Linked DNA regions of Homo sapiens. The protein of the gene in region 2 purifies or fractionates together with the protein of the main gene of each other region. This does not show direct contact. Each region holds a gene or a part of one and is shown on either strand. Other genes may lie near its edges.

Evidence for each region.
Region 1: the proteins of DHX15 (region 2) and SRSF11 fractionate together in Homo sapiens (co-fractionation; one large-scale study listed by BioGRID). This does not show direct contact.
Region 3: the proteins of DHX15 (region 2) and CSDE1 fractionate together in Homo sapiens (co-fractionation; one large-scale study listed by BioGRID). This does not show direct contact.
Region 4: the proteins of DHX15 (region 2) and AHCY fractionate together in Homo sapiens (co-fractionation; 2 studies listed by BioGRID). This does not show direct contact.
Region 5: the proteins of DHX15 (region 2) and USP3 fractionate together in Homo sapiens (co-fractionation; one large-scale study listed by BioGRID). This does not show direct contact.
Region 6: the proteins of DHX15 (region 2) and PCDHA2 fractionate together in Homo sapiens (co-fractionation; one large-scale study listed by BioGRID). This does not show direct contact.
Region 7: the proteins of DHX15 (region 2) and NOP58 fractionate together in Homo sapiens (co-fractionation; 2 studies listed by BioGRID). This does not show direct contact.

The regions. Positions count from the first base shown.
Region 1 is NC_000001.11:70,224,380-70,227,879, forward strand, and holds part of SRSF11 (serine/arginine-rich splicing factor 11), read left to right. Parts: intron 1-3,500. UniProt on the Homo sapiens protein: May function in pre-mRNA splicing.
Region 2 is NC_000004.12:24,539,555-24,543,054, reverse strand, and holds part of DHX15 (ATP-dependent RNA helicase DHX15), read left to right. Parts: intron 1-28; coding exon 29-115; intron 116-1,032; coding exon 1,033-1,182; intron 1,183-2,106; coding exon 2,107-2,215; intron 2,216-2,755; coding exon 2,756-2,947; intron 2,948-3,500.
Region 3 is NC_000001.11:114,755,185-114,759,471, forward strand, and holds the start of CSDE1 (cold shock domain-containing protein E1), read right to left. Parts: upstream 2,801-4,287; 5' UTR 2,741-2,800; intron 1-2,740. UniProt on the Homo sapiens protein: RNA-binding protein involved in translationally coupled mRNA turnover.
Region 4 is NC_000020.11:34,289,856-34,293,355, reverse strand, and holds part of AHCY (adenosylhomocysteinase), read left to right. Parts: intron 1-848; coding exon 849-998; intron 999-1,824; coding exon 1,825-1,937; intron 1,938-2,417; coding exon 2,418-2,625; intron 2,626-2,717; coding exon 2,718-2,805; intron 2,806-2,906; coding exon 2,907-3,024; intron 3,025-3,500. UniProt on the Homo sapiens protein: Catalyzes the hydrolysis of S-adenosyl-L-homocysteine to form adenosine and homocysteine. Binds copper ions.
Region 5 is NC_000015.10:63,511,093-63,514,592, forward strand, and holds part of USP3 (ubiquitin carboxyl-terminal hydrolase 3), read left to right. Parts: intron 1-883; exon of another isoform or gene 884-3,500. UniProt on the Homo sapiens protein: Deubiquitinase that plays a role in several cellular processes including transcriptional regulation, cell cycle progression or innate immunity.
Region 6 is NC_000005.10:140,793,558-140,797,651, forward strand, and holds the start of PCDHA2 (protocadherin alpha-2 isoform 1 precursor), read left to right. Parts: upstream 1-1,294; 5' UTR 1,295-1,407; coding exon 1,408-3,795; coding exon of another isoform or gene 3,796-3,882; exon of another isoform or gene 3,883-3,920; intron 3,921-4,094. UniProt on the Homo sapiens protein: Potential calcium-dependent cell-adhesion protein. May be involved in the establishment and maintenance of specific neuronal connections in the brain.
Region 7 is NC_000002.12:202,272,263-202,275,762, forward strand, and holds part of NOP58 (nucleolar protein 58), read left to right. Parts: intron 1-2,850; coding exon 2,851-2,927; intron 2,928-3,500. UniProt on the Homo sapiens protein: Required for the biogenesis of box C/D snoRNAs such as U3, U8 and U14 snoRNAs. Part of the small subunit (SSU) processome, first precursor of the small eukaryotic ribosomal subunit.

The DNA.
Region 1 (3,500 bases), on a different chromosome or scaffold from region 2:
CACCCTATGTAAAATAAAGCACCTCTGCTGCTGCTTTATTCTCCTTAACACTACTTTTTTTCTATAGCACCTGTCACCAGTTGACAGGTTAAGTTTAACAACTTCTCTCCTGTAGAATATGAGGTGCTTTAAAATACATGTATGACTGAACCTCACCCACACCTACTGAAGCTCTTCATTTCGGTTCTGAATGCCTATTTTGGGGAAACATTTCTGGGATTATGACAGACATTTCAATGACAACCTGCTCTAGGAGGTTTCCTGCATTGTCATTGTTAAGTCCATCTATTTATTCCTTCTTTTAAACCAGAATTTCTGGCCTGTAATTTTACTGAGAAATAGAAATACTATCTTTACAATAGGTGATATTCTAACTGTCTCTACAGCATGATGGCTTTGCAGGTATTTGAAAGTTGAACCCCACATATACTCTTTGTTAAACTGTTATTTTGATTCTGGTTGTTTCTGAAATGCGTACTGGAAATGCAGCATTGTTTGAATATCTATTGTGTGTGAGTTGCTTTCTAAATGTACCTTAATCCTTACAAACCTGGAGGAAAAAAATGTTTTTGACCCTGTTTTACAAGTTCGTGAACTGAAATTTACATAGGTATTTTTTGTATGCCCAAGCCATACTGCCAATGTCAGAACTAGAACTTGAACCCAAGTTGTGACTCTCCTTTACCACTTGATCAGGAGTTTGCTGATTTAGCCAAGTAACTTGTAAGATCTTCACATGCTTTCTTTTAGTGGGATTGCCCAGCAAAGTGCTTATCAGGTGATGATCCCAGTGAAGTATGTCACAGTTATGCAGTAACTTAAGGCTGCTGTAATACGGAGATACATTGAAGTTCATTAGTAACTTTTCAGTGACCCAAAATGGATACTTTAATGGTTATATAAGTATAAATTAGTATATTAGGTAAGGGAAAGAGTTTAGTGCACCTTTAAAGAAAAAATGGTTTTAATTGATGCACCATTTTATTGTATATTTCTTTACATAGTGAGAAGGGGGCACATGAGGTCAGCAGTCAAGTTTTCAGGTTAATGTCGTCTTTGTCACACACCTCCTTTTGTGGGTTGGCGATACTTTTATTTATGAGCTCGAAATTCTCCACTTAGCACACTATTAAGGTGGAAATTGGAAGGCTGATATCAGTGGCCTAAACCTGAAGTTCTCGTACGTTAGTAGGCATGAATACCTTGTTAAGAATCTGGGCCTTCATGTAAAAAAGATTCTCTACAGACCCTTAGGTGAACAACGGAAATCTCAGGTTTTCTCTCTGTAGTCTAGAAGATTCTGAAATAGCCCTCAGAGGACACGTAAGAACTGTTAAAAACTACACCACCGCTCTTAGTTGGAGGACAGAAGTGGCATGCAGGACTCACTTTACCCTATCTTGTTCCTCATTTCTCCCTACTTTATATTAATTCTAAAGAGATACGGAGTAAAATATGTGTCGTATTTGGAAGCAGTACTTCCACAGAATTTTAGAGCACAAAAATTAATTTCAGGCATCAGTCCTCTATCTTATATTAACATATTATCTTATTAAGATAAATTTTATTAGGAGGCTGAGGCGGGTGGATCACCTGAGGTCAGGAGTTCAAGACCAGCCTGACTAACATGGTGAAACCCCATCTCTGCTAAAAATAGAAAAATTAGCCGGACGTGGTGGCGTGTGCGTGTAATCCCAGCTACTTGGGAGGCTGAGGCAGGAGAATCGCTTGAACCTGGGAGGTGGAGGTTGCGGTGAGCCGAGATCGTGCCATTGCGCTCCAGCCTGAGCAACAAGAGTGAAACTCCATCTCAAAAAAAAAAAAATTTTAATCGAAAAAATGTTAAGAATGTAATTGTGGGCCCAGATACCATCAAAAACTTGTTTTAAACCCATCTAAAGGAGGCCATTTGAAGTGGAGAGAGATGAAATTATATTTCTTATTCACAGTATTCAAATTCATATTTAATCTGTACCCTACCATCACTTAACAGGTTTTGATATAGCCAAAATAATTGGAGCATTCCTATGCCATTAATGAGTAGGAAAAAAAATATGAGTCACTTTAAGGTTGCCAAGTATAAAGAATACAATTTGAGCACGGGGGCAGTACTTTTTTTCCTAAAGAACTATTTATTAAAAATATCATATTTGGGAGTCATTTCTTTTAATAAGATAACAATAAAAAGTGTTAAAAGAATTGGTAGAGGTCAGTTTTAAGAAGTGTTAAGTGCTTGCTATTTCCCAGGGCATTGTGTTGGGTGTTAATAATATAAGATGATAGCATTAAAAGAGCTTTGTAATTTATTGATGGAAACATGGATGTCAGCAAAGAAATGTGAAGTGCCATAGCTTACTAAACCTGCTAAAGTACTTGACAGTGAGGCACACCTGCAGCCCCATCTATTGGGGAAGCTGGAGTGGGAGGCTGGGTAACATAGTAAGACCCCTCCCATTTCTTTAAGGAGAAATTGCTTAAACATTCTTTTTACTACTGCGGGTGCAACATTGTTAAATTTTATAGCAGCAGTGTTTCACATCTAAAAACCACTGTATTCTTTAAGAAACATTCAACAGTAAGCCTGTATAACAAGGTGGCTTAACTTGCTTGTGGATATCCTGTTAATTTTGCTTTGAACTTGGGTTAGGGTCTGTGTTTAGCCTGAGAGGTCCTTGTAGGGAAGCTTGTATCAGAAGTTCTAATGGGTTTGAGTTCTCAGGCCATATATAGCATCATGTTAGTGTTTGAGTTGTGATAAAAATTATGGGGTTTTTTGTTAGGCCTAAATTAAAAGAAATTATTTTTCTTTTCAACAATGAATCTGAAATTCTTAGTATAACCAAATCTGATGCATTTACAATTTTATGTACACATTGGTGTGTTTCATTTTTTAGAAACTGTGAAGCCTCATTCAGATAGTATTAAAATACAGGATTTTCCTTTTCATTAATGAGTCCTATGATGTAAGTGTTATATTGATGTTAAAATGAAGTAGTTTTGTACCCTGGGTGCATAAAATTGTCAGAGAGAATTAAAGGAGAAAGAACTCAAACTTCATCAGAGATCTTGATTTAATTCATGTGAAGAGTGTGGATTACCCCCAACCCCCAACCCCATGACTCTAATACACATTAGAGTGTATTAACTAGGGATGGTGTGTTTATTTCTGCCTTAGGGCACTAGCTTTCCAAATAACTTTTGGTATGGGCTTGAGCCATCCCTGTATTCATGCACAGAGTTTCAAGGCAGAAATTTGAGCTACCCTGTAACTTAACAGTTGAAAAAAACCCTGCTTCCTGTGTTATCTGTCTTACTTACACTGCCATAGCTTGCAGTTTAGCACTTGTCTTTCTTTTACCTAAGGAAGTAATTTGTTGAGGGAACTAGCCCTTTTGCTTATTGAAACTTTGCAGGGTGGCACTAGTGGAACGTAGTACTACTCCCATGTGTGCCTACATTTTTTCTTTTATCTGAAAGTGCTCCAAGCCAGAAATCCTTGA
Region 2 (3,500 bases):
ATAATTTATATACTCTATTTCTTAACAGGTAGTTGTGTCAACTAACATAGCAGAGACGTCTTTGACAATAGATGGTGTGGTGTTTGTGATTGATCCTGGATTTGCGAAACAGAAGGTACATATTTAGTGGATACTTTATAAATTAGAGTTGGTTTAACAGTACTTACAACCAATTCATTTAATGGCTAAAATTTACCTTTCAGAATTATTTTCCTATCTTTTTTTTTATTTGCAAATTTCTGCTGTATGAACCCTTTATGTTTTGGCTGGCTCTCAGAAATTAAGACAGTATTTAATATGTAATTCTAGGCTTTTTTTTCTTTTAGAGTTGCTTTGCTTTCTTTGTTTCAGTGTAGTGACGGTGGGTGTTTTGGCTTGTATATTCATTTAACAGTATGGGTTTAGTAATAAAGTACAGGATTTCTATCCCTGCAGTTCAGTCACTTCTCCCAACATTATTAGAGTTACTGCTGTCAACTAGGCACACTATTTGAAAACAGTACTATGTTACTCCTCTAGTTTAACAGTGCTGTATACTAAATGAAGTGAAATGCAGGTGAAGTGGCTATTCAATAAATACGTTTTATTTTTCAAATATCTTTTGGATAAATTGATTACATTTTGTTATTGATGGAAATTTTTTCATTAAACAGTAACAGAGTAATAGTACTCAGACCGTCGAGTTTTGAAAGTGAAGGTTTCTTTTCGGGCAGAATCCTTGACTGCCCAGCATATAAAAAGCAAGGAACAAGGTCAGCCTGATAGAACTGAAATTAGGAGGAGTAAGGATTATATAAGCTGTGTGTTTGACAAGAAGTTTTTCATGTTAGAGTCTTTCAGATGATCGAATTAGAATGTCTGAAAGAACTTTAAGGTTCAGGATGGTGGGTTGTCTATTGTAGCAGCATGATTTATGGCTATCGATATTTCTTTATTTATTTTGGAATTAACTGTGGGCTTTGGATACTTCTGTTGCATCACAATTTTGTGTTTGACTGAAGAAAGACTCTTGTGTTATTTCAATTCCAATAGGTCTACAATCCTCGAATCAGAGTTGAGTCCCTTTTGGTGACAGCTATTAGTAAAGCTTCAGCTCAGCAAAGGGCTGGTCGAGCTGGACGTACCAGACCTGGAAAATGCTTCAGACTTTACACAGAGAAAGCTTATAAAACAGAAATGCAGGTATGGGGTATTGTCGTTTCCTGCCGATATGTTTAAAATGTTAGGTTGAATTATCTTACCAGAAGAACATTGCCTTATTTACTTAATCTTGCCTTTTAGGATTAAAAGCTCCTTAGCTTTTCCAGGAGTGAAATGTATGGTGTAATTAACTTAGATAGTCGTACACCCCCTTATTCCAGGCTGATACATTCCAAGACCCTCCCCCTCCCACGCCTAAAAACTGGAATATGCTGAACCTTACTTACATATACTATGTATAAATATCTTTCTTTACAATTTCACTGATAGAAGATGCATTCTTTCTTTAGATGTGATTTTTTTGCTCTTTTGTTACTAGGTTTCAACTTTTTTTCTTTCCTTACTAACTTTCAGCGTTTCACTTAAAGGAAGCACTTCAGGGCCTCTCATTGGCATATCCAAATTGCCAGCATCAATATTCTTGGCGCTTTGGGGCCATTATTAAGTAAAAGGTTACTTGAGCACAAGCACTGTGATACTGCAAAAGTTGATCTAATAACAGATGGTTGCTAAGTGACAAATGGGTGTATAGTGTATATAGCATACTACTAAGAATGGTGCACAATTTAAACTTGATGAATTTTTTCTGGAATCTTTAAAATTTTTTCTGTTGACACTGCTTAACTGAAACCATGGAAATTGCGAGTTCAGATGAGTGAAGACTACTATACGAATTTCTTTCTGCAGTTGCGAGTTTTATGGACAGTAGCAAACACTGAATACTATAAAGATAGTTGGAGAAAAATGGTTTCTCTCTAGTCTAGCCTACAAGTATTTATCTCTACTGAGACAGTGTAGAAGTAATGCCAAAACAAATAGCTCAGGAGGCAGCAGATTTTTGTTTTCTGGAACGAGGAGACTGAGGCATTTTTAACATAACCAATAAATGTTTTTGTTCTTTGCTAGGATAACACCTATCCTGAGATTTTGCGTTCTAATTTAGGATCAGTTGTGTTACAATTGAAGAAACTTGGTATTGATGACTTGGTACATTTTGATTTTATGGATCCACCAGGTATGACTTATCAAAACACATTTTTATCAGATCTTTTAACCAAAATTGACTCTTAGTGTTTTTCTCCATCCTATTTAATATATGTATTAAATACATTTTGCTTTTTCCATCCAGTATGCATCAAGATTAAGTCTTACATGATAGCATTAAAACTAAAAAAGGTGACAGTTATATGAGCACATTTTTTTTTTTTCTTCAAAAGTTATTATGGGGGGGTTTGGGTAAATTGAATTATCCTCTGGGCATGAAAATGTGAGAATTCCTAAGTTTTCTTTGGGGAAAAACAGTTTGATAAACACATTGATGAATTAGCAATTATTTAATGTATTTCGGAAGAAGACAGTTTTGCCTACAGGAAAATTTTGCAATGTTTTTATGATTCATTGTTTGCTAGATCTGTATAATTGAATTGGATGACAGTTTGAGTTTGAGTTTGGTCCACTGCAAAATGAAAAATGAGATTGCTTATAATAGTTTGTACTTTGTCACATTTTTGCTTGCTTAAGGCACCGTGTCTAATAGATTGTCTTTTACCACTAGCTCCTGAAACTCTGATGAGAGCCCTGGAACTTTTGAATTACCTGGCTGCTTTAAATGATGATGGAGATCTGACTGAATTGGGATCCATGATGGCAGAGTTTCCTCTAGATCCACAGCTCGCAAAAATGGTTATTGCAAGTTGTGACTACAACTGTTCTAATGAGGTCCTATCTATTACTGCTATGTTGTCAGGTAATAGAGGGAAAGGAACAAAAAAAAGCCCAGCTCTTCAAAGTTTGGGTGGACTTCACTTTTGTTTTTGTTTTTTAATTTTTAGTATGATAGTGGATTTTATAGATGGTTTTAAGGAATTAATTTTGTTTTCTAAATACCTTGTAAATAGCTTCGTAATGACATAGTGCTTACAAAAGTAAAGTAAGTCATTGTGCACAAAAGATAAGTAAAGCATTGGCTCTCTTGAGTGCTAATAAAAATTGCAGTAAGTTTGAGCACAGTTGTAACTGAATTCTTTGGTTAAAGGTCCATCACTGCTATCTTTGTGGTTTTTTTGTTTTTTGTTTTTTACTGCAAGTACAGGAAGAACTTTGCTCTAGTACTTAGCTCTATTAAGTGTGCCTGTGACAAACTGAAAGCTATACATTAAGTTGAGCCTTTTCTATATATGTACTCCAATGGCACCCGAACAAACATGAATTTCAAACTTCATATCAAGTAAATAGAAATAGTAATGTATAATTTTAGGCTTAAAATCTAATCTGATAATGGTATTCTTTTACAATGGTAG
Region 3 (4,287 bases), on a different chromosome or scaffold from region 2:
CACAACAGCCACACGTGGCTGGCGGCTACCATGTTCCACAGAGTAGGTATAAACTGAGCAGGGGTCTAAAAAAGCACTATTGTGCCAATTAGCAACAGGAAGTAAATGTAAGGGTCTTGAGCAAAGATTTTCACTAATAAAAGTAGGCAGTATCTAGCATAGAAGCTTGTTGTTAATAAATTGGAGAAAAAGAAGTGCAAATAACTGGTTATGTACCGGCTGTAGCTGCAAATCAACGGATAGCTTACATGTGCAACATAGGGGAAACTGATAATTTTCAGCCACACACTGTTTTACCTCAGCATAAAAGGACATTAAAATATTAAAAAGTTTTGTGTTGTTTTTAACTAGGTACCCACACATGCAAGTGGAAAACATTCTAATATCAAAACAAAGGACTTTTTAAAATCCTGACTGGGCAGAAGGGATTTAACAGCAAGTCACTCTCACCATAGTAGTTTCACCACTTACAACAGTCTAGCTATTAAAGCTTACAAAATAGATCTCAAAGTGCTTCCTCTTCTGTTTTCTGCAAGGACAAAGCTAAGAAGAAGGCACATCAATTCTTTGTGTTTACTTAACAAGATCAAGATTTTTATCTCATTTTGCAATACAGTCCTGAAATTCAACTCCTCAAAAATCTGTCCAAAAGAACATCGTTCCAAAATTTCCATGTTTTAACTACCTTGTCGAAAGTATGGCTCTCACAACAGTTTCAATAGACTTAGTGCCACTGAACTGTACAATGAAAAACACTGGAACACTAAATTTCATGTTATGAATGCTCCAGCATAATTTGATATTTTAGCATTTTGTTTGTTTAAAACAAAAATCGATGGCCCTACACGATGTGTCTTCAGGTGGGGAGAAGGGAAAATAAGGGTAGAGGGTAAAGCCAGACTGCACGTCAGCTTTCACGCTTTCAATTTTGATTTGCTAGGACTTTACCAGATTTTCACCCACACTCGCTAAAGGTCACACTTAAGTCAGTACTTACAAAAAAAGAAAACCTATCTTCTGTGCCTCAAATACTTTAGTTTTCAACTCAGCTGCTATAAATAATCATCTCGATGGTAAACATCCAGAACAGCTGCAAAACCAAACTATTACCTTCTCTTTTATTTTAGTCCCAGGGCTAAAACGAAACAAAAAGAAGGCCAAATATTTATCTAAGTTTTATGACTCAGGTATATCCCTACTGAAGTATATAAAGCCCCTCCTTACCCACACCAAGGATATCCATTATTGGTTAGTACCAAAAGAAAACCAAGGTATGTATTATAGTGCTCCTCAATGCAATATCAAGAATGTTTGCCTTTAGTTACTCAAAATGAAAATTACTCAGCATTTTAGTATAGAGTAGCTTATATCTGTGGGCTATAATTTGAAACCTACATTCTAAAAAAGTAGGTTAGTAGCAGTGGCTGAGAACTGCCAGTTCATACCAGCCTGATGAAAATTTAAGCCTCTCAAAAAGATTTAACTACCACAGTGCCTTTGAGCATTCTCCCTCTCCGCCCTGTCTCCCAACTGTTTAAAGAGCGCCATATTCTTTTACTCATTTAAGGTGCAAAACACGAAAATTAACTTGCCCAACAACGTTCAGATATTCTTTGCAGATTCAAGCCTGTTTCAGGGAGCGTTCTCTGCTTCACCTGTGAGTTAAGCAAGACGGCCGCCATCTGGGTGTTTCTAAGGGAAAACCTTAAAGCAAAAGAACCTTGGCACTAAGATTTCGTATTGATAAAATAGCATGGCAAAAATTTGAAGCTGTCTCCGACGGGGGAACTCTAAAACATTCTACATAGAATGACGAAGCCAGGCCGTTCATTGCACAATGTGGGTGGGCCAGGCGCTGGCACCATGAGAACTACAGGAGGTGGAAGGGAGGACACTACTGAGCTTTCAGGGCGCACGCCCATTCCCCAAGATAGAGGGGTGGGAGCCACGTGCCTAAAAGATTAGGGACTGGTTCCCTTTCTCAAGACGCCGAAGGGGAGACAATGAGGGGAAGGTTGGGTGCTGAGACCCTGCTCTAGGTGACTGGAGTAACGATGTCAATTCCGCCACACTACTGTGCCAGATGTGGCTGGGGAAAGGTGTCTTTAAACACTTCCCCTAAGATATCTAGATGGAGCAGGGTCTCAGTCTATACACAAAGAAGGCGCCACTGCCGCACTGCGCTCTGGTACTGGTAGTCAGATTCCCAAGCAGGTAACGGCCAGGAAACTACAGGGTCCAGAGTCAAAGTAGGCCCCTCTTCTCGGTCTCAGGCTCTTCCAACCTCACACAAAGGACCGCGCCACCACCCCCTCGCCCCGCCCGCCGGGACATGTAGTTCCCGTTTCCCCAGACAAGCCGCAGATGGGGAAGCAGCCAGACTACAGATCCCAGCAGCCTCCGCGCCCGAGCCCCGCACCCTCTGCCTCCATCTTGGCTGCTGTCGGAGCCTCCATTTTCGCTCCCTCCCCCCACTTTAGTCACCACCACCACTACCACCACGCGCAGCCGGCTGGCCTCAACTCCTCGTTTCAGCTCTGCGACCTGACATGAGGCCCAGGCAGTTGAACGGGAGACGTATGAAAAAGCCCAGGGCAGGGAATCGGGGTGCATTCTTCCCCACCTAGAGCTCTACGAGTGCCCACCTTGACTCAGAAGGCTTCTCGTTAGCCTTGGTCTTATTCTCAGCCCTTCCCCTGGGTTTCTGCTACCCCCAGTTGGACCCTGAGGTCGTACTCACCCCAACAGCTCAGCGCCCCCTCTCCAGCGCCGCCATAAGCAGCACGGCCCGGTACGTAGGAATAAATCTCGCTTCTCTCGCGAGAGTTGCGGGCTCCGGGCGCGTGCACGAGAAGGGGCGGAGTGAAGCGTACTCTCAACACGCTTGCGCAGCAGGGCTAAGTGACGCCAAGCAGTTTGCTGCACTTAACCACAACCAACATGGTGGCTGCATTACATTACATTCCTTCTTGGGTGTGCTGCGGGAAGCAATCTCGGTGTTTACTGACTCCTCCTGGACACTAGGGGTGGCGGGTGGCTTTAGGCGTCTCTAGTCTTCGAGCGTTTGAATACGTTTTAGCCCACAATAATGGGGTAAACCTTGAAGGCCAACAATTCTGATGGCATATTCAGGAGTCATAAAAAATGATTTATCTTTTCCCAGCAAAAATCCGGAAGGACCTCACACTCGTTTCTTCTTATAGTGCAAGCATTCTTTCTTACGTCTACTGTTTTAGAGGAATTTCATTAGTATAGAGTCAGCTTTGTAGCAAGGTAATTTAGAAATCTAAATGAGACCTTTGTTTTCCACGAAAAACATTGCAACAGATGCACAAGAGTGAGCAAGGCTGCATAATCACTAAACAAAATGAAACAAATTCAGTCAACTGACCTTTCAAGTTACGAAAGATATTCCTGTTGTGTCAGGTAATCAAAGAGGGTGGATCAGTAATTAAAAGGTTGAAATAAGAGCAAAGAGATGATTCATCCAATGGGGGAAGAAGGAAGGAGAAAAATGGGTAATTATGACCACAGGAAGTTCAATGGATTATCCCCTGCCAGACAGTAGAGCATGCTCCTCTGGTGAGAGGAATGCTTTTCCCAGATTCAATGCTTCTGTTTTCACAGATTCACTGGCTCTCTCACTTGACAGTATTGGATAAATAATGAGCAGCCAGTCTTCTGAGAACTCTCCTACCCACTTTTTGCTTACAACACATTTATTTGACATGTTGTATGTGTAACCACTGGGAAGTATACAGTTGTAAAGAAAATCGGATATAGACTTGTCCTCAAGGAACTTTTAGTCTAGCATCATTGATGATCACAAAAACAAATCTAAACATACACATTGGAATAAGTGCAATGAAGGAAAGACAACCTTCAATTCAACCTCTTGAATTCTAAGAGGAGGCCGTGTCCCATTTCTGTTCAAAAATTTCCTCACCACCTTTGTTGCTGGTGTCCAGTCCCATGTATAACACCTCAAAACTGCCTTTTTGCTCTCTTTGATGCCTTCCCACGCTTTCCTAAGCACAAATATTTGCTTCATTTTCAATGCTTTCATAGCTCACTCTATTGTAATTATTAGTTTTTACTAGGTAGTAATACTCTAGCACAGAGCTTATGAAATTCATCTTTGCATCCCTGGTTGTTGACAGTGCCCGCTCTCAACAACTCTCAAAAGCTTGTTGAATAAATAGCACTGGACAACAGTATGATAAGTTGTTAGAAATTGGAATATATTTCTGGGAAACTACAGAATGTAAATTTTTTTTTTTTTCAGAT
Region 4 (3,500 bases), on a different chromosome or scaffold from region 2:
TGGCTCTGCTTGGCCAGCGTCCTTTGCTCACAAGAGGCTCCTGGGAACCCCACACCTGTGCCCTAGTCATGCCACATGGGAGGAGTGTGGGCTGGTGGTCAGTAGCCCTCAGTTCTGGTGTCTATTCTGGAATTTCATTTAGAGTGGCCCAAGTGCGTCTTAGCTCCTCTCTGGGCATCTGTAAGTGATGATAATGGTCATGGCTGCCTCACAGGGTTTCTATGAGGAAGAATGAGATGGGGTATGGAGGATTTAGAGTCATGTCTGGCAGAAAGCAAGTACCCCACACATGGTAGCTGCTCGTAGTCATTTTTTGGCCAGACTTTGCCTGAGATTCCCCCACACAGAGGCTGCTAGTGCTCCAGTCCTTTCAGTGCAGAGCAAACCCTGGATCCTGCCGTGTGGATCCTGCTGAGGGGGAGGCGTTGTGGGGTATCAAGCCCTGGTCACTCAGGGTTGATGCCTCAGTCCTTGGCGCCCAGGCAGAAGGGGATGGGAAAGGAAAGAATGATTTCCTGATATCTATATCTGGGGCGGGGGGCTGTACATGGCTTCTGTCTCACTTAATCCATACTATTGTGAGCCCTATTTACAGAGGAGAAGACTGAGGCTCAGAGAGGTGAAGTGATTTGCCCAAGGTCACACAGCTGGCAAGTGGCAGAGCCAGGGTTTGAACTCAGATCTATCTGGCTCCAAGTTGTGTCCTGACCACTGCTGAGTTTTCAGAGGGGCCGGAGGTGGCTGGGGATGGGAGTTGGGAAGGAGGTAGTTTTGGCTCTGCCAGAGTTGTTCCCTGGAGCAGGTACCAGTTGGGAAGTCCAGGCCCTGATGTGCCACTCACCCTCCAGTGTATGCCTGGAAGGGCGAAACGGACGAGGAGTACCTGTGGTGCATTGAGCAGACCCTGTACTTCAAGGACGGGCCCCTCAACATGATTCTGGACGACGGGGGCGACCTCACCAACCTCATCCACACCAAGTACCCGCAGCTTCTGCCAGGTGAGCAGGGCGGGGCAGGTGGGCTGGGTGCTGGTGGCCTGGGTGGGGCCTGTTTGCCCACATGATGGCCGCAGGCCTGGCAGGACTCCCATCACCTCAAGCAGCAGGATCTGGAAGATGGGAGGATGGCAGGCTCTGGCATTCATGCTGGGGCCTCCTGACTTCTGAGGGTGCGAGGCTAGGGCAGCTGAGCTGATGGCCCAAGGGCAGGCACAGACAGGGCCATGGTTGGGAATAGCTGGGAGGGAGCCAGCTTTGTTCAAAGCAGGTACGCAGAGTGCAGAGGCCCTGAGGCAGGAATGGCTGGAGTGTTCAGGAAACAGAAAAGAGGCCCACAGGATAGCAGTGAGCAAAGGGAGCCTTCACTGCGGGTATGGTGTGAACTTCGTGAAGACCAGATGTGTCAGGGCCTAATAGGCCAATAGAAAAGTGTTTGACCTGATTTGCAGAGCAAGGGGAAATAACTGGAGGGCGTTGAGAAGATTTCTCTGAGAAGATACATGTTAGAAATGGCTGCTGCATGGAGGATGGGTTGTGGTAGGGAGACTGGGAAGAAGCGACAGGGTCACGGACTAGAGCAGCGGCAGTGAGAATAGAGAAGCTGGGAGTTGTTCGGAGGCAGAGTCACTAGGCCTGGTGGTGGCTTCCCTGTAGGAGGGCGTTGGGGACTCCTCCCTCACGCGGGTCTGGGTGATTGGGGGGCCTGTGGGATCAGTCACAGAGATGGGAACCCAGAAAGAGGAATGGCTTTAGGGGGTAAAGATGAGGAATTTGCATGAGCACAGGTGTGGCATCTCTGAGGCTTGTCCTGTCCCCTCTTGTTTAGGCATCCGAGGCATCTCTGAGGAGACCACGACTGGGGTCCACAACCTCTACAAGATGATGGCCAATGGGATCCTCAAGGTGCCTGCCATCAATGTCAATGACTCCGTCACCAAGGTGAGCCGAGGGGCAGTGACAGCTCCCGCTACAGTGGCTGCAGCTCAGGACGAGGCCTCTGAAGAAGAGTGCCCAGGAAGGCTGAGATTAGGGACATGAAGCCCTCATTTGAGGGGGCAAAAGCGGTTATAGACAGGCTAATGAGTGCGTTTAAAAGGGGTGTCAGAGCTGGGTGTTAGGAGCTTTATGGCTTTGGGAAGAAGAGCTTTCAAGTTAAGCAAGGTCTTTGACCGGGCAATCTCTCCTAGTAACTGATGCCTAGGAAGGCTCCACACTGGCAGAGAAAGATTAGAGAGAAGCTCTTTGAGCCGATCGGGGTGAAGGGCTTGTGGGGGCATTGGGTGCTGGAGGGGTTCAGCCCAGGCCGGGATGCTTGGTGGGCCCATGATGCCTGGGCTCTTCAGAATACTCTGAGGCCAAGTTGTCCTGGCCCCAGGGCCTTGCCTGCCCCTATTGTCTCCTTACCCCCTTTCCTTTCAGAGCAAGTTTGACAACCTCTATGGCTGCCGGGAGTCCCTCATAGATGGCATCAAGCGGGCCACAGATGTGATGATTGCCGGCAAGGTAGCGGTGGTAGCAGGCTATGGTGATGTGGGCAAGGGCTGTGCCCAGGCCCTGCGGGGTTTCGGAGCCCGCGTCATCATCACCGAGATTGACCCCATCAACGCACTGCAGGCTGCCATGGAGGGTAGGATAGGGCAAGGGTTGGTTGTCAGCCACTGGGGCCAGAGGGAGGGGCAAGGCCACCGTAGATGACCCACAGCCACTGTCTCTGCACAGGCTATGAGGTGACCACCATGGATGAGGCCTGTCAGGAGGGCAACATCTTTGTCACCACCACAGGCTGTATTGACATCATCCTTGGCCGGTAGGTGCCAGATGGGGGGTCCCGGGGAGTGAGGGAGGAGGGCAGAGTTGGGACAGCTTTCTGTCCCTGACAATCTCCCACGGTCTTGGGCTGCCTGACAGGCACTTTGAGCAGATGAAGGATGATGCCATTGTGTGTAACATTGGACACTTTGACGTGGAGATCGATGTCAAGTGGCTCAACGAGAACGCCGTGGAGAAGGTGAACATCAAGCCGCAGGTGAGAAGCTCCCGCCTTGCCAGTGGGCTGGGCAGATGGGAGTGCAGAGGAGTGCTGGCTGCCAGGGAGGAGAGCTGAGGAGATGGTGGCAACCTGTGCAGGGGGATGGGGAGAAGAGGGCCTAGCATCAGAGCCAGCCAGACGTGGCAACCTTATCCTGTGGGCAGCCGGCATCCCTGAAGGTATCAGGCAGGTGAGCTGTATGTGGTGAGGCTGTAGTTTTAGAAAGATCACTCTAGCTACTGTGTGCAGAATAAAAGCAACAATGGCGGGTGGTGGGGAGAGAGGCTTTTAGAGGAGGCTCGTAGAATCCCTGCAGGGGATGATGGCAGCCTCAGCTTAGGGAGTGCTGGGGTGGATGGACGGCATGTGGGGTCAGGATGGAGGCAGAGTAACAAAGGACACAGCTTTGGCCGGGCATGGTGGCTCACACCTGTAATCCCAGCACTTTGGAAGGCCGAGATGGGCGGATCACC
Region 5 (3,500 bases), on a different chromosome or scaffold from region 2:
CTAGCATTTAATCCTGACTAATTTAATTAATTATTCATCCTTGTAGTTTTTCCTATTTTATTGATTATGAAACTGAGACAAAGGTTACGAGTTGCCCAAGATGCTTGGGGAGTATTAAAGATAGCCCAAAGCTTAAACTCTAACACTGTTCAGACTTTTAGCTTGCTTTTTCTTAAAAAAAAAAAAAAAAGAGTCTTTATTTTGTTATTCAGTAACTTAATGCTTGACAATTTAAAAAATACAAAATGTTTGGAACACATACTTTAAATAATTCCTTTGAAGATTTTTGATATGAAAATATATTTTAAGTTCCACATCTCAAAAATTACTTATTTTAAAATTTGGTCTTTTGTTACCCCCCTCACCCAATTTAATATTGAAAGTGCTGGCAAGTTGGAACAAGGAATTGGTGATATAGTTTGGAAGAAACAACTATTTTAAATGTCAACCTTGTTATACTCAGATCTAATATTTTTATAGGCCGAAATTCATATTGCATTAGTTCAGACATAATAAACCAGCCTCCTCACTATAGCTATGGATAAAATGCAATTAGCTTTTGGTTATTTTTAAAATGGGTTTCAGTTATTGAAGTCTCTCCACCCCCCTTATTTTTTCATTTTGTTTCTGTTAGAGAAGATTCTTCTTGGAGGTGGTTTGTTGTAGGGTGGAGGAAGGAGAGAATTCTTAAGGTATAGAATTTTGCATTTGCTTCTGGTAGCTCAGAGATTATTTGAAATCTTTGCTTTTAGTCAGTATACTTTGTTGATTCCATTTAGTTATTCTAAGATTTTCCAATTGTATTTCCTGTAAAAGTTATAGTCTTTAGACCATAAAAACTAAAACTAGTAACTGCAGATCTTTTTTTTTTTTTTTTTTTTTGAGATGGAGTCTCACCCTGTTCCCCAGGCTGGAGTGTGATGGCACGATCTTGTCTCACTGCAACCTCCGCCTCTCGGGCTCAAGTAATTCTTTGCCTCAGCCTCCTGAGTGGCTGGGATTACAGACGCACACCACCATACCCGGCTAATTTTTTGTATCTTTAGTAGAGTCAGGGTTTCACTCAAATTCCTGACCTCGTGATCCTCCTGCCTTGGCCTCCCAAAGTGCTGGGATTACATGTGTGAGCCTCCGTGCCTAGCCAGTAACTGCAGATCTTAAAACAGATTTCCCCTCTTCTTCTTCTTCCTCTTCTTCCTCTTCTTCTTCCTCCTCTTCTTCTTCTTCCTCTTCTTCCTCTTCCTCCTCTTCCTCCTCTTCCTCTTCTTCTTCTTTCTTCTTTCTTCTTTCTTTTTCTTCTTTCTTCCTTCTTCTTCTTTCTTCTTTCTTTTTCTTTCTTCTTTCTTCCTTCTTTTTCTTTCTTCTTTCTTCTTCTTCGGAATCTCACTCTTTGGCCAGGCTGGAGTGCAGTGGCACGATCTCAGCTCACCGAAACCTCCACTCCCAGGTTCAAGTGATTCTCCTGCTTCAGCCTCCCAAGTAGTTGGAATTACAGGCAGCCACCACCATGCCTGGCTAATTTTTGTGTTTTTAGTAGAGACGGGGTTTCACTGTGTTGGCCAGGCTGGTCTTGAACTCCTGACCTTGTGATCCACCTGCCTCGGCCTCCCAAAATACTGGGATTACAGGTGTGAGCCACTGCACCAGGCCTCCCCCTTTCTTAAGATACAAGGAAGTGTATCTTTTCAGTGTGTGCTCTTTATGGATGTATACAATGCAGATGAATTTAGGAAGGCAATTTCAGATTTTGAAAACTGTTGAAATTAAACTTGAACATTGAAAAATCAAATTTGCAGTTGTCTTAAGTGTTTGCATTAGTTAGATGCTTCACAATTAATAAATACTAGCTAATATAATTTTATAAGACCCTTTGAAGAGGGAATTGTGAGTTTATTTTTAAGATAAGCCAGGTTATATCAAAGATATTGTAACCAACTAGATTTTATTTGGAGACTTTGTACTCTGCTTTAGAATCCAGTAGCTCTATCAGTGTGAGCTGTTTCCATTCTTGAGTAGAAGTTTTCTCCTGTTATTTTTTCTTTGTTCTAGCTGGGTTTAAGACAGCCTTCTTTGTAGAAATTGTTGGCCTGTTTATCCTTCACCCACCCTGAAGACACTTAATTTTATGGACTGTTCTTGTACTGCCTCATCACCAGAAAAAGCAGGCTGGAAATTAACTGTCATATTCCCGCAGGTTTAATTTAACTGATTATAAGAAAGTACAGTTATTGTTCTACCTTCTTTAAATCTTTGTCCTTGATGACCAAGCTCAGGTTTTTATTTTTGCTTATTTATTTATTTTTTGGAAATGGAGTCTCACTCTGTCACCCAGTCTGGAGTGCAGTGGTGCAGTCATAGCTCGTTACAGCCTGGAACTCGCGGGCTTAAGTGATCCTTCCACTTCAGCCTCCCAAGTAGCTGGGACTCCAGGCATGTGCCACCACGCTCAGCTAATTTTTAAATTTTTTTGTAGAGATAGGGTCTCGATGTTACCCAGGTCTTGAACTTCTGACTCTGAGTGATCTTTCCACCTCAGCCTCCCAAAGTGCTGGGATTACAGATATGAGCCACCAGTCTGGGTGGGTTTTCTTTTTTAAATAATAGATTTAAATTGTTCATTACTTTGTTTTGAACATTTGTTGCACAATGCCGGAGTAATATTTTGATTAAAGTTTTTGAATATCAAGTTGAAATTTCTAGAAAACAAATTTCTGACTTGGAATGTTTCCCTGAGATAATCGATGGATGACATGTTAGAAAAATGTTCTACTATATTAGGCATTTAAAAAATAACTGTATAATATAGAGACTGTGGGAGCAACAATGGTACAAATTGCTGGTTGAGCAAATTTTAATTTTAGTTGCACACAGTAAAATGTTCTTTGGTTTCATTAAGATTAACTCTTATTTCCATGTGAATTATTTTGGATATTAATAGTGAGATGCTTTAGCATTGGAGAAATTGCTTTATAAAAACTGAAGGATCAGACTTCACCTTAAGTGTATGAAGTAGCTGCCAGACCTCAACATTCGTGCCATGAGAATTTAATTCTGAGAGCTTAAATGCGTTAGTTTCATTTTATTTGCTTTGAATGTTTTGTTTATATATAGTTTTTTTTAGAGCCTCATTTAAAAAATATATGTATTTCTAGTTTTTTTCTTCGAATATATAATACAGATTTTTGGGAAAATGTGGGTCATGTTTGAAAATTCTATCGATTGTAAAAAAAAATTCCGACTCTTGGTTTTGGTTAAATAATTAGAACAGCTATTTAGAAAAACTGAAATAGTTAATGGTTTTGGAGTTTGCAGGTGCCTGTTTTCTGAAATATTGATTATCTATCCCTCGGGCAGAGTATACGTATTTGCCAAGTTTGTATTTCTTTTTTCTATTTCTTCAAAATAAGTCCCGTTGATTTTAAAAGAATAAAGAGTTTCCCAGTAAGTACAAGTGTGGTACTTTTTCCCCCTCCACTTTGTACTTTAGTGTTAACCTTTAT
Region 6 (4,094 bases), on a different chromosome or scaffold from region 2:
TACTTCTCTCTTTGCTCTAGGAAGCTGAAAACAAAATTGGTGACATGGTTAGAGTAACTGAAGGTGACCCTTTATTATGGATTTTGTATGCTATCCCACTCCTTGATTCATTTTATTTCATCCTCATCTTATCTTTATTCTATTTTCATTTTTTTACTGTGAAGGGATCAGCTAAAAATTAACAAAAGAAGATATTCTCAAGTAATTAACACAAAAAAAGAGATCGATTGTATTGTTCTTGCATAAAAGTCTAAATGTAATGGAAAAGGAATATTCTAAAGTAATAGTACATTATCCAAATGAGAAACAAATAAATTATTAATTTCAAAACATTTGCAAACAATTCAAAAATCAAAATTAAATCACAAAACAACAGTATATATACACATATATTTTCAATGGACTAAAATACCTTTGATTACTATGTTCTTCATTTGAAGAAATAGTGAAAAATGCTAATATATCCAAAAGAATTGAAAGCAGGGTCTCAAAGAAATATATGCACACCCATGTTCATGGCAGCACTGTTCACAACAGTCAAGAAATGGAAGCAACTCAAATGTCCACGAATACTTGAATGAATAAACAAAACGTGGTGTATACATATGTTGGACTATTATTCAGCCTTAAAAAGGAAAGAAGTCCTGTCACATGTTACAATATGGATGAACCTTGAGGAACCATCCACGGATGCTTGAATGAATAAACAAAACGTGGTGTATACATACGATGGACTAGTATTCAGCCTTAAAAAGGAAATAAATCTTGTCACATGCTACAACATGGATGAACCTTGAGGACATTGTGCTAAGTGAAATAGGCCAGTCACAAAAAGACAAATACTTTACGAGTCCACTTACACGAAATATCTAAAGTAGTGAAATTCATAGAAATAGAAAATAGGACTGTGGTTACCAGAGACTGGAGTGACGGTGAAAAGCGGAGTTGTTGTCTAATGGGTATAGAGTTTCTGTTTTCCAAGATGAAAAATTTGTAACAATGTGAATATACTTAACATTACTGAAATGTACATTTAATCATAGTTAATATGGTAATTTTAAATATTATGTTGTGTGTTTTTTAACCAGAGTAAAAAAGGGTAAAAAGGTAATATATTTTAGGGCTTAAAATAGTTATTTTTTTCCAAGATGAAAGCTATGAGTAAACTTAAACCAGAAAATCGACTAGTTTTAAATCTACAGAATAAACAGTAGAGCCTTCCTTTTAGCCACATGATGTCGCTGTCCACCATAGAGTGTTCTCTAGGAAGGAAAATACCCAGAGCCCCTTTGTTACTTCAGAGAAGCGGAGGAATAAGAGAAGCAGCAGGACTTTAACAGAGACTAGAATATTTAAATTTTTGCAAAACATGCTCTTCTAATTTGATCAAAACATTGAGGATTGGTAATGGCGTCTTCTATCAGAAGGGGCCGAGGGGCCTGGACACGGCTGCTCTCGCTTCTGCTCCTCGCAGCCTGGGAGGTGGGGAGCGGCCAGCTCCGCTACTCCGTCCCCGAGGAGGCCAAACACGGCACCTTCGTGGGCCGCATCGCGCAGGACCTGGGGCTGGAGCTGGAGGAGCTGGTGCCGCGCCTGTTCCGGGTGGCGTCCAAAAGACACGGGGACCTTCTGGAGGTAAATCTGCAGAATGGCATTTTGTTTGTGAATTCTCGGATCGACCGGGAGGAGCTGTGCGGGCGGAGCGCGGAATGTAGCATCCACGTGGAGGTGATCGTGGACAGGCCGCTGCAGGTTTTCCATGTGGAAGTGGAGGTGAAGGACATTAACGACAACCCGCCAATATTTCCAATGACAGTAAAGACTATCCGGTTTCCCGAATCAAGGCTGCTTGATTCTCGGTTTCCTCTAGAGGGAGCATCTGATGCAGATATAGGAGTAAATGCTCTTCTCTCCTACAAGCTCAGCTCCAGTGAGTTTTTCTTCCTAGATATACAGGCAAATGATGAACTAAGCGAATCTTTGTCTCTCGTGCTGGGGAAATCGCTGGACAGAGAGGAAACTGCTGAGGTTAATTTGTTACTGGTGGCTACTGATGGGGGCAAACCTGAGCTCACGGGCACCGTTCAAATACTTATTAAGGTATTAGATGTAAATGACAATGAACCAACTTTTGCCCAATCAGTTTACAAAGTAAAATTGTTAGAGAATACGGCAAATGGGACCTTAGTGGTTAAGTTAAACGCTTCTGATGCAGATGAAGGACCGAACAGCGAGATTGTGTATTCACTCGGTAGTGATGTGTCCTCCACTATACAGACTAAGTTTACCATAGATCCCATCTCAGGGGAAATCAGAACTAAGGGAAAATTAGATTATGAAGAAGCAAAGTCCTACGAGATTCAGGTCACTGCAACTGACAAAGGAACCCCTTCAATGTCAGGACATTGTAAAATTTCATTAAAACTTGTGGACATCAATGATAACACACCAGAAGTCTCAATAACGTCTCTCTCACTTCCCATCTCAGAGAACGCTTCCCTGGGCACTGTCATTGCTCTCATCACGGTGTCGGATCGCGACTCTGGTACGAATGGACATGTCACCTGCTCCCTGACGCCCCACGTCCCTTTCAAGCTGGTGTCCACCTTCAAGAATTACTACTCGTTGGTGCTGGACAGCGCCCTGGACCGCGAGAGCGTGTCAGCCTATGAGCTGGTGGTGACCGCACGGGACGGGGGCTCGCCTTCACTGTGGGCCACCACCAGCGTGTCCATCGAGGTGGCCGACGTGAACGACAACGCGCCGGCGTTCGCACAGCCTGAGTACACAGTATTCGTGAAGGAGAACAACCCGCCGGGCTGCCACATCTTCACGGTGTCAGCGTGGGATGCGGACGCGCAGGAGAACGCGCTGGTGTCCTACTCGCTGGTGGAGCGGCGGGTGGGCGAGCGCGCGTTGTCGAGCTACGTTTCGGTGCACGCGGAGAGCGGCAAGGTGTACGCGCTGCAGCCGCTGGACCACGAGGAAGTGGAGCTGCTGCAGTTCCAGGTGAGCGCGCGGGATGCGGGCGTGCCGCCTCTGGGCAGCAACGTGACGCTGCAGGTGTTCGTGCTGGACGAGAACGACAACGCGCCGGCACTGTTGGCGCCTAGGGCTGGCACCGCTGCTGGCGCAGTGAGTGAGCTGGTGCCGTGGTCGGTGGGTGCAGGGCACGTGGTGGCGAAGGTGCGCGCAGTGGACGCTGACTCAGGCTACAACGCGTGGCTTTCGTACGAGCTTCAGCTGGGTACTGGCAGCGCTCGCATCCCGTTCCGCGTGGGGCTATACACGGGTGAGATCAGCACGACACGTGCCCTAGACGAGGCTGACTCCCCTCGACACCGCCTACTCGTGCTGGTGAAGGACCACGGCGAACCAGCGTTGACAGCCACGGCCACCGTGTTAGTGTCGTTGGTGGAAAGTGGCCAGGCACCCAAGGCCTCGTCGCGGGCGTGGGTGGGCGCCGCGGGCTCAGAGGCTACGCTGGTGGATGTCAACGTGTACCTGATCATCGCCATCTGCGCGGTATCCAGCCTGTTGGTGCTCACGGTGCTGCTGTACACTGCGCTGCGGTGCTCGGTGCCACCCACCGAGGGTGCGCGCGCGCCAGGAAAGCCCACGCTGGTGTGCTCCAGCGCCGTGGGGAGCTGGTCTTACTCGCAGCAGAGGCGGCAGAGGGTGTGCTCTGGGGAGGACCCCCCCAAGACGGACCTCATGGCCTTCAGCCCTAGCTTATCTCAAGGTCCAGACTCCGCAGAAGAGAAACAGCTCTCAGAATCAGAATACGTAGGAAAGGTGAGTCTTTTACTTTTTCTTGCCAATTCTAAAATTGTTCTTTTTAAAAAATTCTATATGATTTCTACTAGTTATTTAGATTCATAGTTCTTCATTTATTTTATATCATCCTACCGTGCGATTTTGAATATGAATTAGAGATCAATTTATTGCATTTACTGAACAATTTATTTAAACAATCTACATAACTGTTTTCTTATTTTTACATTTTGGCACTTCCATCATTAAGTCATAAGTAATAGACCATGAAACACTGAAAAACACCTCAGCAAAATTTGTAAATTAAACATTTCCCATAA
Region 7 (3,500 bases), on a different chromosome or scaffold from region 2:
TTGCCTCAGCCTCCCGAGTAGCTGGAACTACAGGCGCCTTCCACCTCGCCCAGCTAATTTTTTTGTATTTTTAGTTAGAGGCGGGGTTTCACCGTGTTAGCTAGGATGGTCTCGATCTCCTGACCTCGTGATTCGCCCGCCTCAGCCTCCCAGAGTGCTGGGATTACAGGCATGAGCCACCGTGCCCAGCCTGTATAAATTTAATCACACATGGTTGAATTAGATATGTTGGTAAAAATAACCCAAACTAGAAAAACTTAGAGTCACACAAAGCAATAAACAACTACAAAGCCTAGAGTTGGTATTAACAATTTATAAACTAATAGCTCTAACTTTGTATATCATGAAGTTTTAGAATCCAGAGACACCTCACCAAGTCTCATGACTATACTGAAAACACTGATTAAAATTTTTTGAAATTGTTCAGAGAATGCAGCTAACCATAACTGAAGTTCACTATTTTTAAGAGGACATGTATCAAATAGGGGATATGACTCATGAGTAAAATTCACATTTTTTCTAGCTGAAAAGCAAGTATATTTGAAGATAACATTTGGGTAACAAAATTGCCATATTTAAAAGATACTTTCGGCCTGGCGGGGTGGCTCACGCCTGTAATCCCAACACTTTGGGAGGCCGAGGTGGGTGCATCATGAGGTCAGGAGATCGAGACTATCCTGGCTAACACGGTGAAACCCCATCTCTACTAAAAATACAAAAAATTAGCCAGGTGTGGTGGCAGGCGCCTGTAGTCCTGGAGGCTGAGGCAGGAGAATGACGTGAACCCAGGAGGTGGAGCTTGCAGTGAGCCGAGATCCTGCCATTGCACTCCAGCCTGGGCGACAGAGCGAGACTCCGTCTCAATAAATAAATAAATTAATTAAAAAATACTATCACCATTCTAAAACTGAAGTTAAAATAACAAAGGAAATGTGATAAAATCAGGGCAATTCATGAGCACACAAAGGTCTTCAAAGACTATGTTATGTCAGCCAAAACCATTACTATGACAAATAAAACCATTGTGTTCCCAACTGCAACATCTTGAAGAAAACATTGCTAATAAAGACCATCTAAATAAGAAAGTTAGAGATATTGCTACATTTTCTGTATTACATTTGTCTCAAAGTTTTTATTTGTCTCAAATTTTTAATCATTTCTTTTCAGCCAGGGTAATGATAAATATTTGTATACAGAAATCCATTTTAAGTTTTATCATTTTAAGATAATTTCCATTTCTAAGTAGAAATAGTATACAACTATTACCATTGCAATCTTTAGCATTGTTGTTACAACAGTACTAGTTTTAAAACAAGTCTTTATATTTTATAGATACAAACTGAAATATTAACAGGTAAAAATTAAATGTCTAGGTCTTGCTTCAAAACAATACAAGGCGGCTGGGTGTGTTGGCTCACGCCTGTAATCCCAACGCTTTGGGAGGCCGAGGCAGGTGGATCACCTGATGTCAGGAGTTCAAGACCAGCCTGGCCAACTTGGTGAAACCCAGTCTCTACTAAAAATACAAAAACTAGTTGGGTGTTGTGGTGCGTGCCTGTAATCCCAGCTATTCAGGAGACTGAGGCAGGAGAATCGCTTGAACCCGGGAGGCGGAGGCTGCAGTGTGCCGAGATTGCGCCACTGCACTCCAGCCTGGCGACAGAGTGAGACTCCATCTCAGAAAAAAAAAAAAAAAGCCATTTACTGTGATTCCTAAAAGTATGCATGAACATGTGTTGCACAGACATTCAAAGTCTTGGAGAATATATACCTAAATGTTGATAAGTATATTGTTGATTAAAGTACCCTATGTTTCTTTTGCATTTAAAAAATTTCTCACATCTAGATGTGTCTCACAATTGACGATAGTTTTAGAGAAATCCATAATACTTTCATGTTAGGATGATCATAGCAGTAAATAACGAATATAATCTATTGAAAGTAGACAAAAGTTTTTTTTGTTTTTTGTTTTATTTTTTTGAGATGGAGTTTTTTGCTCTTGTTGCCCAGGTTGGAGTGCAGTCGCGCAATCTCGGCTCACTGCAACCTCTGCCTCCGGGTTCAAGCAATTCTCCTGCCTCAGCCTCCCGAGTGGCGGGGATTACAGGCATGTGCCACCACGCCCAGCTAATTTTGTATTTTTTTTTTTTTTTTTTTTTTGTAGAGACGGGGTTTCTCCATGTTGATCAGGCTGGTCTTGAACTCCTGACCTCAGGTGATCCGCCTGCCTCAGCCTCCCAAAGTGCTGGGATTACAGATGTGAGCCACCATGCTTGGCGCAAATTAAAGTTTTTAATGATTACAATACTTTACTGTAAAGGGATTAATGGCTCTTTTAAAAGAAAGGTTCTCGGCCAGGTGCAGTGGTGCACACCTGTAATCCCAGCTACTCAGGAGGCCGAGGCACTAGAATCTCATAAACCCAGGAGGTGAAGGTTGCAGTGAGCCAGGATTGCTCCACTGCACTCCAGGCTGGGCTACAGAGCGAGACTCCATCTCAAAAAAATAAAAAGAAAGGTTCCCTGCCCTACCCCCTAGGACCCCATAGCTCCAGCTACGGCCCAAGGCTGGGGCAGGAATATCTCTTGAGGCCAGGTAGATTCTAGACTGAATAGCCACTGTACTACAGCTGACTGGACTAGATCTGAATTCCATTTAGCTGTTAAATGGGCAATTCGAACTAGTAATTTGACCAAAATTACATGCAGGGTAAGAAAACTAGTTCATTATCTTAGTGAAAGAAATAGCTTCTACACCTTCATTTTACATGTAAAATTGTATTTGAAGAATGCAGCTGTATATGCCTCACCTGTACCATTTAAATAAAACTATTTAAACATTTTATTACAGGTTCTAAATGAGAAGAAACTTCAAGAGGTTGATAGTTTATGGAAAGAATTTGAAACTCCAGAGAAAGCAAACAAAATGTAAGTACTCTTGAAATCAATAATTTAGCAGTTAACATTTAGGGCTTGTTTTATTTTTTACATTTTTCCCTGATTTATATAATGTTACATTCGTAGTTTTCTGTTTTGAAATCTGTTTCAGGAATAATTTTGGTATGAACCTAATTATTACAAATGTTTTACTTGGAATATAGGCCATCTCAATTAATTTGAAGGCAGTAGTCTCCCCCTTACCCACAGGGATTATGTTCCAGAAGACCCTGTGGATACTTTAAACCTCGGATAGTACCAAATGTGATTGCTGTCAGTAGGAACACATTTGTCTTCGTGTCTTCCACACACAAATGTAATACCTTTTTTATCTTAACTAAGCACTTACCGCACACAGGGGTTGTAACCTGCTTTTTGAGTTTTGCAACATCAAAACTAGCATGAACTACTTTTTCTTTCATCACAATTTCATGGAAGATTCATTCTTAGTGTAGATGTTAAATCTTTGGTTTTTTTGTTTGTTTTTTGAGACAGAGTCTTGTTCTGTCACCTAGGCTGGAGTACAATGGCGCAATCTCTGCTCACTGCAACCTCCGCCTCCTG